Regions from separate parts of the Homo sapiens genome. Here region 1 is linked to region 2. The links come from fine-mapping of genetic effects on gene expression. A gene starts in region 2. The other region holds a variant in brackets. All regions are shown on one strand. Distances are from middle to middle. Region 1 overlaps FAM219A (family with sequence similarity 219 member A). Region 2 holds the start of SPMIP6 (sperm microtubule inner protein 6).

Region 1 (8,331 bases), 29 kb after region 2:
GTTGCATAAAGTAATATGTCCAAAGTCACACCTGGTAGGCAATTTGAATCTAATTTCCTCATCTCTCTTACCCCAGCCCCTTCTCAGAGACTTAGATAAAGTCATGAGATTAACAACGTACCAGAACTTACACCTCTGTGGGACTGTTGTCTTGCAAAGCAGTCACTTGGAAGGCTGGTACCTAGTTCAATCATGTCTCTGGAGCTCAACACAAACTTGTAGCCCCTCTTTAGAAAATAGCATGGATGCTTTCTGATCACAAGCTTCCTGCTCAATTGAGTTCTCCACAGGAAGGAAATATTGGAGCCACTGAAGCAGTCGATAGCTCAAGATGGAGAGAGAGACTGGCAGGAAGCAACAAGAAAGAAAATGCGTTGGAAACTGAGAATGGTGAGCCCAGGAGACAAAAGAAGAGGGCAGTGCAAGAAAAGGAGATGAAAGGGGCCTTAGCCACCAAATTCAGTTCTGGTCCTACATTTTAAGGGCATCTATATTCTAGGCACTGTGCTGGGTTCTGGACATATAAAAATAATATGGGCTGGGCGCGGTGGCTCACACCTGTAATCCCAGCACTTTGGAAGGCCGAAGTGGAAGGATTGCTTGAGCCCAGGAGTTTGAGACCAGCCTGGGCAACATAGTAGGACTCCATTTCTACAGAAAAATTAAAGAAAATTAGCCCGGCATGGTGGCACGTGTCTGTAGTCCTAGCTACTCAGAAGGCTGAGGTGGGAGGATCACTTGAGCCTGGGAGGTTGAGGCTGTAGTGAGCCATGATTGCACAGAGCGACAGAGTGAGACCCCTTCTTCTAAATAATAATAACAATAATAAGGCCCCTGCCCATGAAGAGCTCATAAGCCAGTGAGTGAAGCAAGTGAATAAGCAGATAATTTTAATCATATGCTGAGTGCTATGACAGAGGTTTGTATGTGTACAGGACAGAGGCAACTATCCCACTCTGGGGAATTAGGGAGGACTTCTCCAAAGAAAACTGATGGAGGAAGCAAGAATAGGAAGTATTAGTGAACCAGATGAGGAAAGGAGTGGCAAACAAAAAGAAAAAAGAAGAGAAAGGACTGGTGGGAAAGATGCACATGACTATAGAGCAGGCAAAAAGAACAGGTCAATTTTACTAGAATGTTAATGTTAGGGGACGAAGTGGCAGGTGATGAGTCTAGAATGACAGGAAGACTTAAAATCATGAAGGGCTTTGTAAGATATGTTCAGGGTTTTGGACTTCACCTGGAAATAATGGGGAGCCACTGAAGGATTTTCAGCCCATTGTCAGATTTAGATAGACTGACTGCTCTGGGAGCAGGTCCAAGGAATAGGCAGGAATGATTAAACTGGAGGCAGGGAGGCTAGATAAAGGTCATTGCAGTAGGTGACAAAGCTTGAAAAAGTCAGTGTCAGTGGGGTTGGAAAAAAGGAGGTGGAGAAGAAAAACATGTTGAGGTCAAACCGCTGGGGCACTAAGGCTGACTGGATCTGGGTTTGAGGGAAAAGACTTGAGCTAGGATGACTCCCAGGTTTCCTCCTGACTCAGGTGACTGCGTGAATTGTGATGCCACCAAATAAGATGGAGAAACAGAAATAAGAGTAAGGCTTGTGGTTTTGTTTTGTGTGTAAATATGTGTATGTTTATAAATAAGAAGGGCTTAGAGAAAAAAAATTAAGGAACACCAATATTGAAAAAGTAAGCAGAAGACTGACAGCTACGGTCAGAGGGGTAGGGAACCAAGAAGAGATCAGAGTCATGGATGTCTAGGAAAGGCAGAGTTTTGAGAAGAATAATGTAAGACAGAGGAACCAGAACCGGAGTCCTAGAGGGGCTCTTGTATGACAAGAGAGACTGGAAAATAGTTGAGGCCGGGAGAAAGAACCAGCATAGAATGGCCACTTGTTTGAAGACATGAGGGAGGACTCAAGATGCTGTTCTCAGGCTTGCTGATATTTCAGCAAAAACTTATTTTGTTCTAAGAAATTATGGGTCTGATTCTTGTGAGGCTTGCAAGTCCTCACCGAGAGACATTCTCTAGTAGAAAAGTCCAGTCACGGTCCAGAGATCATGGCACATTTGCTATCTTTTAGGAAGTGTGGGCAAGGGGTGGGCTGAAGGCAAGGGAGGCTGACCAGGGCTTGGCCAAACTAGAGGCAATAGTAAGCAGTTAGGTGGGTAGTCGCCCCAAATTCTGGCTGCACCAGAGTCCCCTGACTTAGTTTTGGCCTATCGTCCCCAGGCTATGGCAAAAAGCAGCAAAGACCCTTGACTTCTAGTCCTTGAGGCAGGGGGCCAAAGCCAACACGGACCTACCAGGAGTGGCCTGAGAATCCAGAACACAGAGAGGAGCAGCCTGCGTTGCGATTTTCCCAGAACCCACAACACTTGTTCCACCAACAGTGAACATCCAGAGGGAGGCTCAACCATGGAACCTATACTCTGTTATGTGGTAATCATGCTTTCTCACCTTTTTGTTTTTTGAAATAGGGTCTCACTCTGTCACTCAGGCTGGAGTGCAATGGCACGACCTCAGGTCACTGCAATCTCCACCTCAGCTCAAGCAACCTGCCACCTTAGCCTCCCGAGGAACTAGGACTACAGGTGTGTACCACCACACCCAGCTAATTTTTTGTAGTTTTGGTAGAGATGGGGTTTTGCCATGTTGCCCAGGCTTGTCTCAGACTCCTGAGCTCAAGCGATCTACCCCCTCGGCCTCCCAAAGTGCTGGAATTACAGGCATGAGCCACCGCGCCCAGCCCTTTCTCACTTTTATTATTATTATTCCTTATGCCTAGTCAAAACTTTCTCACATTTAAACCCTTCAATAATAGTTTTCTGTAAAAATAAACAAATGAGGCCCACAGTGGCTCATACCTGTAATCCAGCACTTTGGGGGGCCAAGGCAGGCAGATCACCTGAGGTCAGGAGTTTGAGACCAGCCTGGCCAACATGGTGCAACCCCGTCTCTACCAAAAATACAAAAATTAGCTGGACATGGTGGTGGGTGCCTGTAATCCCAGCTACTCGGGAGGCTGAGGCAGGAGAATCTCATGAACCTGGGAGGCGGAGGTTGCAGTGAGCCGAGATCGTGCCACTGCACTCCAGCCTGGGCAACAAGAACAAAACTCTGTCTTAAATAAATAAATAAAATAAACAAATGAATAAATAAAAATAATCACTTGACTTAATTATTAGTCTTCAGAGCCAGTAATGTAGTCAGTAACCTGCATGCCTCCACTGTGCTTGGAGAAGTTGAAAAATGTGCAGTTAGTGTTAAGGGGAGATCCTTGTTCTTCTGTCTCCTGCATGCAAACACTGACACCTATGAGTGAGTGGGCAGTGCACTGAGGTGCAGGAAAGCCAGGCTCACACGAGGGCAGAGGACTGGCAGCCTCAATGAGGTTAGACTGACTTTTCCCAAAACTCTGACCTTGCGGACCTACTGCATTATTTAAAAAAAAAATCATATTCTGGGAAAGAACAGCCTGTGCTTGGCTATTTACAAAAGTAGGTCTGTGAATGCTGTTAGAGTTGAATGAATGTTTTATGCTATTTGGTGCATTTTAAGTAACCCAATAGGCTGAAATATTTTTGTTGTGAAGGGAATGCTTGTTCTGTACAATTAAATTTGGTTAGAATTAGAAACTCCAAAATTCCTTTGTTCCTATCAGGGGAGCAATAGTTTGTCTTCACCTACTCTGCAACCTTGTGGCTGTCAGAGGGTTAGTTATAAGGCCTTCACATCTGGGCTTCACAGAAGCACAGAATAGCCATTCAAG[G/C]AGTATTTTGGCTTTTATATGGACACCTAATTTCACAGGCAGTAGGATCCTGAATTTTTTATATAATGACTTTCACTCTTTCCACCACTCCCTTCTATTTTACACTCCAATGAAAACATCCCGAATGTTGAAACATCAGTGATTTTGTCCTGTTCCTATGTTTAGGAGAGGAATTTTCAGCTCCTTGTTATGTCCAGGTGGGGCTAAGATGAGTTGTATCTTTATAGATAGGAGAAATGATGGTATATAGAAAGAACCCAAAAATCCCAGATCCTAGTCTATAGTACACCCTGGGCTGTTTTGGATTCTGAGATAATTTTTCATCCTCCCCTTCCCCACCAATAGCCCAGCTCTAGCTAGCTGCAAATTGTCTGGATCGAGCTGCTTTGACATGCTGATGTTATCGGCCTCACAGTGCCTGGAGCATGCAGATAGGAACAGGCAATGGCGCCGTTTCACTGGACGTAGTAATGTAATTTAGTTTCTGAAATCCAAGTATAAAATCTTGAAAGCTGACTTTAAAATCTGCCTCAGGAGGGATGGTGGTGGTGTGGAATTCCCAGCAGAACCATCTAAATAGGGAAATGGCTTCTGTCATGTATTAATAAACAGTTCAGAGCAATGGAAAAATAGAGAGAGGATTGCAGGGAAAGTGAGTGCCTAGTCTTTCTTCCTCCTCCCTCCTCTGAACTGGGCTGCCAGGTGAGGACCATTCCATTTGTGTGATCCCCAGGTTGGGGCTAGAAGCACCTCTCCCTGAGCATTCCTGTGAGGCCCCTGCTGCTAGGAAGATGGAACAGCAGTTTGGGTGGTCTCAACCAGCACTTTTTTTTTTTTTCTCCAGACCAGGCTAAGAATGATGGCAAAGGAGTAGTCACTTGCCTTTACTTCTATCTCCCCAACCTCATCTTGTGCCACTCTTCCCCAGGCTTACTAGTTTGCACACTGGTCTTCTTTACTCCTGATGGGGTATCAATATCCTTTTTAACCTCATGCTCCCCTTCTGGTTAAATTTTACTACATCCTTCAGGCCTCAGCTGACACACATCACCTCTTGTTTTTTTGAGACAGTGCCTTACTCAGTTGCCCAGGCTGGAGTGCAGTGGCGCAATCTCGGCTCACTGCAGCCTCAGCCTCCTGGGCTCAAGTGATCCACCTACCTCAGCCTCCCAAGTAGCTGGGACTACAGGTGCACGCCACCACACCTGGCTAATTTTTGTATACATACATATTTTTGTTGACATGGAGTCTACGTTGCCCAGGCTGGGACACATCACCTCTTAAAAGAAGCTTCCCATAAATGCCAGGCTCAGTTAGATCCTTCTATAATGTAGTCTCACAGCCCCTGCTCCCCCATACATTTCTTTCATGCACTTAGCAAATTTTATTTAAATGACTATTTGTATAATTTGTTTAATAAATGTTCGTGAAGGTAGGGACCATGCCTGCCTCCACTATGTCCTCCCAATGCTTGGCATAGAAAATGAAAGGCCATAATCTGAAAAGACAAACACTGCCTTCTACTTGATTTGAAGGCATAGCAAGGATCTTTCTATAACAGAGAGGTGGCAAACACTCCTGACCTATCAGACCATGCTGGAGTCTTGTCTAATGGTGTCCCACAGACAGATGTTGCATTTTGTGCTCTTTGTAGGACTACTTCTTCACTGTAAGCCTCTGGTCAGGGGCTCAAAGTTATTTTGGAGAACAGCCAAAGTAGGAGTCCCCCAAACCCTCCTTCAACTCACCTGAAGGCTTGGCCTAGTTAAAACTTCACTTAAGGTCCACAGCCAAAGCAGCAACTCAATTTCAGGTCAACTTCTCATGGAGACTAACAACAAACTGAGCAGATAGATGCAGCCTTCTTTGTGACTAAAGGGCTAAGATCAGCCATTAGCTTGCAGATATATACTTCCACAATCAAATGATTAAGGCCCAACTCTTGTTACTGAGTTCGGAAGAATGGGAAACCAGCTTGGAATCCAAACCATCAGAAAACTCTTTGGAGGGAGATAGGAGTGGGGCTGTTCTGATCCTCTGTCTGTTCAAAGTGCTTTCTGACAACCTGGTTCTTGTAACCATGTTCAACAGGCAGTAAACACCCAAGGCAGGGAAACTCTTCAGGATTTAGACATAAGGGCAAACAGATGGTAAAGGAAAATGCAAGAAACCTCCTGGAATAGTAAACACAACCCCTGTCTAGAGAGTAGGGCCTATGAACAGTTTACCTGTGAACTGCACTGACTCTGAGAGTCTAGACAGGTTGTTTCACTTTCTGAGCTTCTAGGTCTGTTTTTATTCAGGCCCTGAGATCCCAGAAAGAGCCTCCAGGGTAGAGAGTAAATGAGTTCTCCCAGGTCAATGCCAGATGGCAGCCCTGGGATTAGAATTCATGGGCCCTTGTTTGCAGCCAGCTGTGCCCTCCCCTGAGTCCTGCACTGTTTCTTCTTCTGAATGCTCAGGATTGTATTCAATTTAGTAAGGTTTGTGGACACATAATCACAGCTCCTAAATAAAACAATTACTACAGAGCATCCGCTGTGAGGAAGACAAACACTGGGCACCTTTGCCCCTGAGAGCAGACTGAGAGCGAGCTCTGGCTGAGTTTAGGTCTGTTCCACTTGAACAAAACCCAACACAAACAAACCCTCTTGGGATCTGGCAAAGTCCTCATCTGTTCTTGTTTCTTCTCCAGGCTTCCTTGTGCATTAAAAGAGCCTGTGCTTAAACCCACAGTAAGGGCCTCTGCTGGAAGCTGGAATGTGCTGTTTCCTGGAGCAAGAGAGAGGCCAAGCTGAGGGACAGCCTGGATCCAGATCCTCTGCACATTTTTTCACCCATAAATTCATTACTACATTGTCAACGGCCCCATCTCCAGGAGCACTATCATGCAACACCTCTTGAGGTGGGCTGGGGGCAGCCCTAGTCCTTCTAGCCCAAACTCTGCCAGGCGTACTCAAGGCTCAGTGAACACCAAAAGTTCTTTTCTTCTCCTTGCTCTCCCCTCTCATTATGACTGGTTGGCACTAGAAGAGGGAGCCTGCAGCTGTTCTCTCAGGGTTTCATTATTTAGCATCAATTTCTTTGACCAGGAGGTTCTTTGAGGTATAATGCATGCCTTTGGGCTTGACAGTTCCTTCAATAAGGGACCCAGAAGCCTAAAAGAGGTGAAGAAAACAAGGTCTCAAAAGGAAGAGGGCCTTGCACAAATTCAGAGCAGGGCTGGTTGAGAGGAACAGGGTCCTGAGTGTTTTCATTGAGCCTCAATCCAGGCAGACTTACCCTCCTCACTCACCAGCTCAGGGAATCATAAAGTGAGAGCTGCTCTGATTCATTTAGCCATGGAAGAGACCTGTAGGTAGAGGAGGAACTTTCAACCAGAAAATTTAATCCCTAGTATATGATTATGATTCTTCTGACCTTTCAGACTCCTCACACATGACTTGGGGAAGTGGGAGGAAGTCCCTCTATAGTGTGAATTTAACTCTTCTCTGCTTGTGGGCTCTGGGGGCCATGTGCATGACTAGGGTTGGGGTGGCAGGTTGCAAGCTCCAGACTCGCTAGTTTTATTTCTGCTTCCATTTGCTACAACACCCACCTCATGTCAATGTCCTTCCCTCTGCAAAAAAAGGCATATTTAAATTAAGTATATTCCTATTGGTAGGCCGAAAGTCCAGTGATGGCTCATGAAAGGATCCTGCTTCAGGCCTTGAAACCTGCTCAGTGTCTCTCCTTAATTTCCCCTCCTTCATGCTCCCTTCGTCCAGATTGAAGAGGGAAGTACAGGGGTATTAGAGACAGAGGACCTTTTAATATTCCCTTGTTCCACTGGTTTCTTACCCCATCCCCAGGACTCCTACTATCCTGAAGTATTAGGGTATCAGGCCCTGGCCAGGGACAGCTTGGGAGATGACATAATTGTCTTGCAAGCTTACTTCACCTTCAGAGTGATGGTGACCTCAACAGAGAGCTAGACATGTGTGGGGGGAGGTAGGGCAGCACCTGGAGGGGATAAGGGGGAATCCCTAGACCTACAGGGCTGGTCTTGGAAAGAGAAGAGGTCATGCCCCTTTCACAGCGAAAGACATGTGCAGGAAGGCTATGCAAAATTAAATAGGCATGGTAGGGCTCAGTGGCTCATCCCTGTAATCCCAGCACTCTGGGAGGCTGAGTTGGGTGGATCTCTTGAGCCCAGGAGTTCGAGACCAGCCTAGGCAACATGTCAAAACCCTGTCTCTACAAAACAAAACAAAAAAAGAAAACACATGCTGGGAGGCTGAGGTGGGCGGATCACAAGGTCAGGAGACCGAGACCATCCTGGCTAACATGGTGAAACCCCATCTGTACTAAAAATATGAAAAATTAGCCTGGTGTGGTGGTGGGCGCTTGTAGTCCCAGCTACTCAGGAGGCTGAGGCAGGAGAATGGCGTGAACCCAGGAGGTGGAGCTTGCAGTGAGCCGAGATCGCGCCACTGCACTCCAGCCTGGGTGACAGAGCAAGACTCCGTCTCAAAAAAAAAAAAAAAAAAAAAGACAAAAAACAAACAAACAAC
Region 2 (8,331 bases):
TCCTGTAAATGTCTTATCTTTCCTTGGTTTTTGAAAGGATGACACTTCGAGAATTTTTTTTCTTTGTCTGTTTTTAAGGTCATCTCTTAAGCTGGTGAACTGCAGTTTCATTGTGAGGTGCCTAACTGTGGAATTTCTTCTATTTTTTTTCTCTATTTGTGGATTCATTTATTTTGTTAGTTCTGGAAAATTCTGAGCCTTTTTCTTTTTAAATAATAACTGTTCTTTATGCTCTTTCCTTCTGAGATTCCCATTAGATGTTTGTGGGATCTTCTCATTCTGTCTTTCATATCATTTAATGTTTCTTTCATATTTTCATCTCTTTGTCTCTCTGTGCTGCGTTCTGGGAAAATTTTTTCAGTCTATTTTTCATTTCACTGGACTTTTCAGCTGTGTTGACTCTACTCTTTAATCCATCTGCTGAATTTTTGGTTTAGCAAATACATTTTTCATTTCTAAAAATTCTATTCAGTTCCTTTTTACATTTGCCTACTCATTTTTTAATAATCTCTTATTGCTTGCTTATTTTAATGATTTCGTATTTTTATTTTTTAAATAGAGACAAGGTCTCACTATGTTGCCTAGGCTAGTCTTGAACTCTTGGCCTCAAGTGATCTTCCTGTCTCAGCCTTCCAAAGTACTGGGATTACTACAGGCATGAGCCACTATGCCTGGCCAGATTTCACATTTTTAAAAAATCATAATTATTCTATATTATTATTTTTTGAGATGGAGTCTTGCTCTGTCACCCAGGCTGGAGTGCGGTGGCATGATCTTGGCTCATTGCAAGCTCTGCCTCCTGGGTTCACACCATTCTCCTGCCTCAGCCTCCTGAGTAGCTGGGACTACAGGCATCCACCACCATGCCCGGCTAATTTTTTATATTTTTAGTAGAGATGGGGTTTCACCGTGTTAGCCAGGATGGTCTCGATCTCCTGACCTCATGATCCACCCACCTCGGCCTCCCAAAGTGCTGGGATTACAGCTGTGAGCCACTGCACCCGGCCCAATTATTCTATATTATTTAACTGTTAATTCTAATATCTGAAATTCTTGGGAGTTTAAGTTTATTGTTTGTTGTGTCTGCAGATTCTGTAATATGGTGGTTTGTTTTCTTTTATCTCTTATTGTGAGCTCATGTTTAATTGGCCGTTCTTCAAAGGATACCTGGAAACCTACACTGAGGATGTTTACCGCCATTGAAGATAAATATGTGTGTGTGGGGTGTGTGTTGGGGGGCAGAGACATGGAACTTTCTGGTTAAGTTTGGAATGTACAGATTTAATTCCTCTATCTTTCAGCTAGTTTAAGGCTTAAATGCCTGTTTATAGTGCTAATAATGGCATTTGTCCTCAGGACAATCCTGTCTTCTTAACTATACTTACCACTCATCTCCATGAGACTCCAACACAAAATAAAAATTAATTTTTATTCAGAACTTAAGTTGTTTTGAAGCAACAGGGCCCTTCAGAGTTTCTAGACCACCATACTGCCAAAAGCAGCAGCTTTTCCTTCATTCTTTTTTTTTTTTTTTAAGAGACAGGGCCTCGCTCTGTCATCCAGGCTGGAGTAAAGTGGTGTGATCAAGGCTCACTGCAGCCTCAACCTCCTGGGCTCAAGTGATTCTATCTCAGCCTCCCGAGTAGCTGGGACTATGGGCACATGCCACTGCACCTGGCTAATCTTTGTATTTTTGGTAGAGACAGGATTTCACCATGATGCCCAGGCTGGTCTTGAACTCGTAGGCTCAAGCAATCTTCCTGTCTGCTTCAACCTCCCAAAGTGCTTGGATTACTGGCCTGAGACACCATGCCTGGCTTTTCCTTCATTCTTAATACCACTGCTATCTGACTTTCACTCCTCGCCATTCATTGAAGCTGTCTGGCTAAGTTACCAAGAGTTACTACATCCGAGAGATTTCTCTGTCACTAACACTTGACACTGATCTTTGTCTAATAATGCTGTCTTTATTGGTTTATCTTTGATTTTCCTCCTAGTTCTCTGGCAATAATTCTCTGTCTTCTTTTATGGCTTTTTTTCCTTTACCTACCCTTAAATATTTATATTCTCCAAAGTTATGTCCTTGGCCATTTTCTCTCTCTTCTTTGGCAATTTCATCTCTTCCTATGACTTCACCCACCATTTATATGATGATGACTTCAAGATCTCTATCTATAACCCAGACCTCTTTCCTTTGCTTCAGATAAGTATATCTAACTACTTGCCAAACATCTTTTCCTGGATATCCTCAAATATTTTTGTTCTCAAATGAACTCCAAATCTCTAATCTGTTATTCCAAACCTCAGTTGATAGCATTAGCATTCCTCCAGCTGCCACAGCCAAAAACTCAAGGGTCACCCTAATCTCTCACCTTACCATCCATATGGTGACCAAAATCTGTTCATCTACTTTTTAAAATTCCCTTCTATTGAGTATGGAGTCAGGCACTCTCATATTTTGCTTGTGGAAATGTAAATTGTTACAACCCTTACTTATTATGGCAATTTGAGGTATATAGCAAAAGTTTTAAAAATGTGTATATCTTTTCTCCTAACAATTTCATGTCTAGTAATTTATCCTAAGGGAATAATTGGAAATGTGTACAAAGATACATGTATAAGAATGATTATACTAGCAAAATTTTATAAAGTACCTAAATTTTCAATAAGATTCCTTAAATACACCATTTTGTAATAAATTTTATTTATTTTTATAATAAACAATATTTGCTTCCTGAAAGGGCATACGATAATATATTAACAATGGTAATTTTAGGTAGTAGGATTTTAGACCTTTTTTCTTTGTGCTTCTCTGAGTTATCTGCATTTTCTACATTCAGCGTATATTTATTTTGGAGTTAGACAAAATAAATTATTTTAAAAATTCTCTCCTATTCAACGAATTCCTTTTTTCATTGTGACAATCTCCTTATCTCCCACCTACATCCTCCTTCCTCATCTGTTCACCCCTCGCTGGCCTTCCTGCCCTCAACCCCAGCCCCTGCAATTCCCTGACACTGTGGCCAGAGTGGCCTAACTCACAATTGAACCATGACTCTCCCTCCCAGGTTCAAAAACCTGGAGCCTTATGTCCACGCTCCACAACATAGCCAGAGAGGCCCTTCTTGGTCTGCAGACTCCTCTCTCACCCAAGGACTAAACTCTCCTGCTCTAACAGTTTCAGTTTCTGGTAGGTCCCTGCCCACAGGCTGCCTTTTCTCCTGACTGTCTTCTGCTGGAAGCCTCCTCCTCCTGGATCCCTCAGTAGGTCTGCCCTTCAGGTTGGGCAGCGCTCTCCCCTTTCTGGCTCTCCACCTCTGCTGGTGCATGTTCCACATCGGGCAACTCTACTTTGTTCACTTGTTTGCTGTGAGCTCCTCAAAGGCAAGGGCTGGCCCTTCCCTTTTGTATCCTGGGTTGCCTACAGATGAAGATACTCAGCAAAGTTGGATGGTACACACAGATAAATTCTCTTAGGCAGAGTCACAGTTAGACTCACAGATTTCCTCCCACCTGGCCACCAATCTTCAAGCACAGACACAAGTAAACTGTGATACATATAGATAAAGGCATGCATATAGGACAGTTTCCGGCCTATTCCACAGGCAGCCTCAGGGCCTTTGCACTTTGTGATCACTTGTCTGGAACTTTCAGCTCTTCTATTCTTTCAGGTCTTCATGTGGCTAGTTCTATCTCATCTTTCCAGTCTCAGTTTATTGTCACCTTGAGAGAGGGTTTTCCATGACCTAAGTAGCCCTCCCTTTCCATTTCCACTTCCACTACTCTGTTTATTTCCTTTACAGTATTTTTGAAGAATTTATAAAACTCATGTTTATTTCTTATTATCTGCCTGTTCCTACCTCCTACCCTAATGTAATTCCATGAAGGCAGGATTTTGTGCTGTTTTACATACCATTGTAAATTCTGTGCCTAGGTAAATGAATAAAACACACACATACACAAAGCTACAAATCATTACAAACATACATTGCCAGGCATCCAGACTGGCCATACACTCTGGCCTGCCCCTCCCCACCAATCTCCCACTTACCGGAGTCAGAAACTTGTTGGCTTCCCAGGCACACAGGGGTGGGTCCTTATAGACCTCCTTGATGGAGGTGGGAGCCCTGTAGGAGTCACTGTAGGTACTGATAGGGGTCCTGGTCTTACGGGAGAACAGGAACATGGTGTGGTCTTGGAGATGCCGTGGTGGGCTCTACCTGTCAAGGGCTCCTGCTGGACATCAGTGACCACCCTTCCCCTAGACAGGCCACACCTCCAGCCTGGCAGGTGCCCTTAGCTGCTATAATCCCCTCCTGCAGAGGATCTCTCAGCTTCCTTCCCCAACAGCCTTCCTGCTCCCACCCCACACTGATGCCCCCTCCAGGATGGGCACTGCCCATTGTGATATCACCTGGCTCAGCCCCATCCCTGGGAAGGTGAGGAGGTCTAATTCCCTCCCTGCTCCTGACCCCCTCCTGCCTCAAGCCTATCAAAAGAGCCCAATTTCTAAGAGTTCAGAGGGCCTCTGGAGATCTTCTAGGTCAGGTTTCTCACTGTTGAAGAGAAACAGAGGTTCGGAGGGGTTGTGACTCACCCAGGGTCATGCAGCAGGTCAGTGGCATGCCTGGGAACCCACAGGTGGAGGTGGAGTAACATGTGTGCCCAGAGGACCAGTTCTGTCTGCTTCCCAGCCCATCTGCCCCTTGCCCACACCCCAGGGAGGGAGCTGAGGCTGGCTTGTTTGATGCTTTTAATATCATTATTTGTGTTACACGATACACAACCAAGGATGATGGTCAATACTGCAATGAAAATGTTAAAAAAAATATTATACACGGCTCATGTCTTCCACACACCTTCCTGGAAATAAATTAGTGAGCACGGAGAAACCTGGCTGGGTGGCAGCCACAGCTGAGAGAGGAGGGAGTGTTAAGGCAGTATCTACAAGGGGAAGGGTGGCAGGAGGGCAAGCTAAGGCCTAGATTCTTCCCTCCAACCTCCCAGACAGGGAAGGAGGGAGCCACACCCCTCCCTAGACACAGAAGCTGCCACTGCCAGCTTCCTGCCTCTCTCTGCCACACATGCACTGCCTCAGTTGGAAGCCCTTGCCTGCCAGGGAACTAGTATGTCCTGTGGGGGGGGAGATTTTCCCTGGTGTCTCAGGGCCACAGAGATTGAACAATGGGCCCGAGTCACACTGCAAGTCAGCAGCAAAGGCAGCAGTCTAAATGAGCCCCCAAAAAGAGGAGGTACCCATGTTCTAGAAAGGTGAGCCAAGGAGCCCCGGGGTGGTGGTGGTGGTAGTGGGAGGGCTGGCTCTGGGGTCCAGATGATGGGGGCACAGGGGTTGGGGGGATGTTGATCTGGGTGGGAGAGGTGGGTTCAGATGGGGGCCAGTATGGGCCTTGTGGGTCCTGCAGGTACCTTCTCTGTCCTTGCCTCCCTTTGTTTGGCATTTTCTCATCATCTAACTTGGGTCCCTGCACTAGAGGAGGTAGGAATGGGTTGGCGGAGTGGGGGGTGGTGAGCTGTACCCCAATATTTTGGAGCTGGCAGTTCCTGGGTATGATGCAGGGAGAGGTACCACCCTTCCTAAGCCAACAGTCTCACTCCCTCCTCTCATTGCTCCCCATTCCAGCTCCCACCTCCCAGGATTGGTGTCCAGAGAGTGGGCTGTGGGTGAGTCTACTGCATGCCTGCAGCATGTGAGTGGATCCATGGGAGTGGATCCACCAGCACATGTGGGGTGTTAGCATGAGATGATCCACCTGGGCCTGTGCTATAAGGTATGTGGGCACAGGCCTGTGCAGTCTTAGGCTATCTGTGCTTTCATTTTTCTTCACACGGTGGCAGGTCTACACTGCCCAGCCCCAGGGGTGGGCCTTCCTCACCTCTTCCCTCTTGATTTTCAGTCTCAGCTTTCCAGTCCCCTCCCCCAAACCAGCAATAGCAGAAGCAGCTGTATACACATCTTGATCTACAGACACCCTATACAGCCACACACAATAGACAACCCTCCAACACACACACACATTCACAGACAAACACGTAATCCCAAACAGAGCCACATGTGCTCAGACATACACAGTCCTGATAGGAACTGCCCCTTCGCCTTTCTACAGAGACACACAACTCCGCCCCACCCCAACCTTTAGGTATACTGAGACACACAGAGATTGCCCCCTCCCCACCACAGAAATTTCTATGAAGAAACTCTTTCAGGTATAAAAGGATCTTCAACATAATTTCAGCTGCTGTTCATTTTCTAGTTGAGGAAACTGAAGACGAGAGAAAGCAAGTGGCTTGTTGAAGATCACAGGGAGGGGCCAGAGCTACAACCAGAACCCAGGCTTCTGACTCCCGGTCCAAGGCTGTCAGCCCATTGCACTGCTGAGCCGCCTTCTGCACTGTAAACAGACCACACAGGCACTTCCCTACCAGGGACACCCACATCTATGACAGGAATAGACTGAGGAGAGACAGGTCCAACAGAGACACACACCCACCCACCCCCTGACAGCCTCAGAGATACACACACATTCTGCTAAGCACTCCCTACCACATCCAAACAACCACATCCATAGAGCCACTCAGCCCACTGGATTCACCAAAGCTTGCTCCTGGATTCTTACTGGGAAGCAGCCTCCCACGTCTTGGGCTGGGGTGAGGGGAATGGGCCATTGGAGTCCAGCCTTACTCCCTGCTTCCAGGCTGGGATTGAGACCAATGAGCAGAAGCGTGGGTGAGGGTGGGGGCAGGGTGGGGTGGGCTGGTGGCAGACAGATAGATGCATTGGTGAGGGGCCAATTAGGACAGATCACACCACCCAAACCTCAGCCTGTCTGTAAGGCCCACCTTACCCTGCCCCACTCCCAGAGTGCAAGGAAGCGGGTGAATGGGGCAAGAGGAGGAAGAAGGCAGTGATCCGATGGGTGAGGGGCACTACCCGGTTGGGCAGCTTTGCCAGGCTTCCCATCTGAGGAGGGGGAAATGCAAATAGAAACATGGGCCGGTAGGGGGCGTGTGAAGGGGGCTCCGAGGTGCTGGGACCCGTCCCCACTGCCCTGGGCCTTTCTCCCTCCGAGCCCCTTTCCTGGTTAGGCTGAGGCCGGGGCTTGGGAGTTCATGGCTTCGCTGGGGTGGGGCCAAGCCCCTGGCTTTGTGATCCCCCCACTCGTTAATGTTGACCTCCCTGCCGTCCAGTCTTCTCTCTTGGCCAGCCCTGGGAAGCGGGGCAGGGTGCTGGGTGAGGTTCCCCCAGGTAACTGAACAAACGGCCCCCACCCCTCCTCAGCTCCCGGGTGGAGAGAGACCCAGTTTTGGTTTCTCCAGCTCCATGAACACACAGAGGTACACGTCCTACCATAGGAGGAAGCAATGACTGTTATACGAGGTTGGCGGCTGTAGGGGCGCGGGGCCGGGGGCAGGCAGACGAGCTGGGAAGGGGTCGGCCTCTGCCCGTCCTACCCGGCCCTTGGCGGCCCCGCCCCGGCGACCGCAGTGGCCCCGCCCGCTACTGAATGTGGCAGGCGGTGGAGGACGTGGCCTGGCAGCACATGCACGTGGGGTTCACGGACTTGGGGGGGATGAGGTCTAGGTCCTCGTCGTCGGGGATCTCATCTAACCGGTAGCCGTCCTTCAGCAGCTGGATGTTCAAATCTTGGTTGATCTGCTGTAGGCAAAGGGGAGGGAGGTCAGGCCCGAGCGGCAGGGAGGCACCACCCACAGCTCTGCGGCCACTCCAGGCCGTCTGCGCCCCAGTCCAGCCAGTGCCCTGGATATCAGCCCCGCCCTGTCCCGGGTCTGTCTGTACCCCCAGGCCCCGCTCCTGCCTAGGCGCCCTCCTTCGCCTCTGGCCTCTCTTTCTAGTCACCCCTCCCCATTCTATGGTCAACTTCACACCTCTGGTCCTGCTCCTATTCGGGTTTTGCCCCTATCTCAGGCCGGCTACTAGAGGATATCACCTGTATTTTACACCCATTCTATTTAAATGGCCTGCTGCAATCTAAAGCCCCACTCCTAACCCTGGGCTCCATGCACTTGAGGCCAGTAACCACTTCTCTTCCATCCTATCCCAGGCCCACCCTGTGCAGGGCACCACCCAGCCTTGCCCAGCCCTCTTTTTCCTTGTACTTGGGCATTGGCCCCAGCCCTCCCCCGGGATGGCAGTGATCCTGCCCGGTGGTGTCTAGGGTGAGAAGGGGTAGGGGCTCACCTCAGCAGAGGAGTAGCCGGAGGAGGAGTATCTAGACATGTCAAAGTCATCATCGCTGGCCATGGAGGAAAGAGAGGGAAAGTGATACCAAGAAATTACATAGAAAACTCTCT

What was found.
Region 1: its variant is fine-mapped to the expression of SPMIP6 in cerebellum (GTEx, PIP 0.99).

What each region holds. Positions count from the first base shown.
Region 1 is chr9:34,422,348-34,430,678 of GRCh38, forward strand. The region is part of intron 1 of FAM219A (family with sequence similarity 219 member A); the gene reads right to left. LOC124902145 (a long non-coding RNA gene) reads left to right here. Exons shown (of 3, transcript XR_007061465.1): 2 at 291-390; 3 at 2,239-2,498. Among named protein-coding and RNA genes, the nearest start is that of SPMIP6, 29 kb to the left of the region's middle. The variant G/C (reference allele first, on the strand shown) is at 3,779.
Region 2 is chr9:34,393,448-34,401,778 of GRCh38, forward strand. It overlaps SPMIP6 (sperm microtubule inner protein 6), which reads right to left and starts at 4,363. Exons shown (of 7, transcript NM_032596.4): 1 at 4,052-4,363. The coding sequence starts at 4,186. FAM219A (family with sequence similarity 219 member A) reads right to left here. Exons shown (of 6, transcript NM_001184940.2): 5 at 8,219-8,273; 6 at 4,737-7,675. The coding sequence ends at 7,517. It overlaps LOC124902144 (a long non-coding RNA gene), which reads left to right. Exons shown (of 2, transcript XR_007061464.1): 2 at 1-2,887.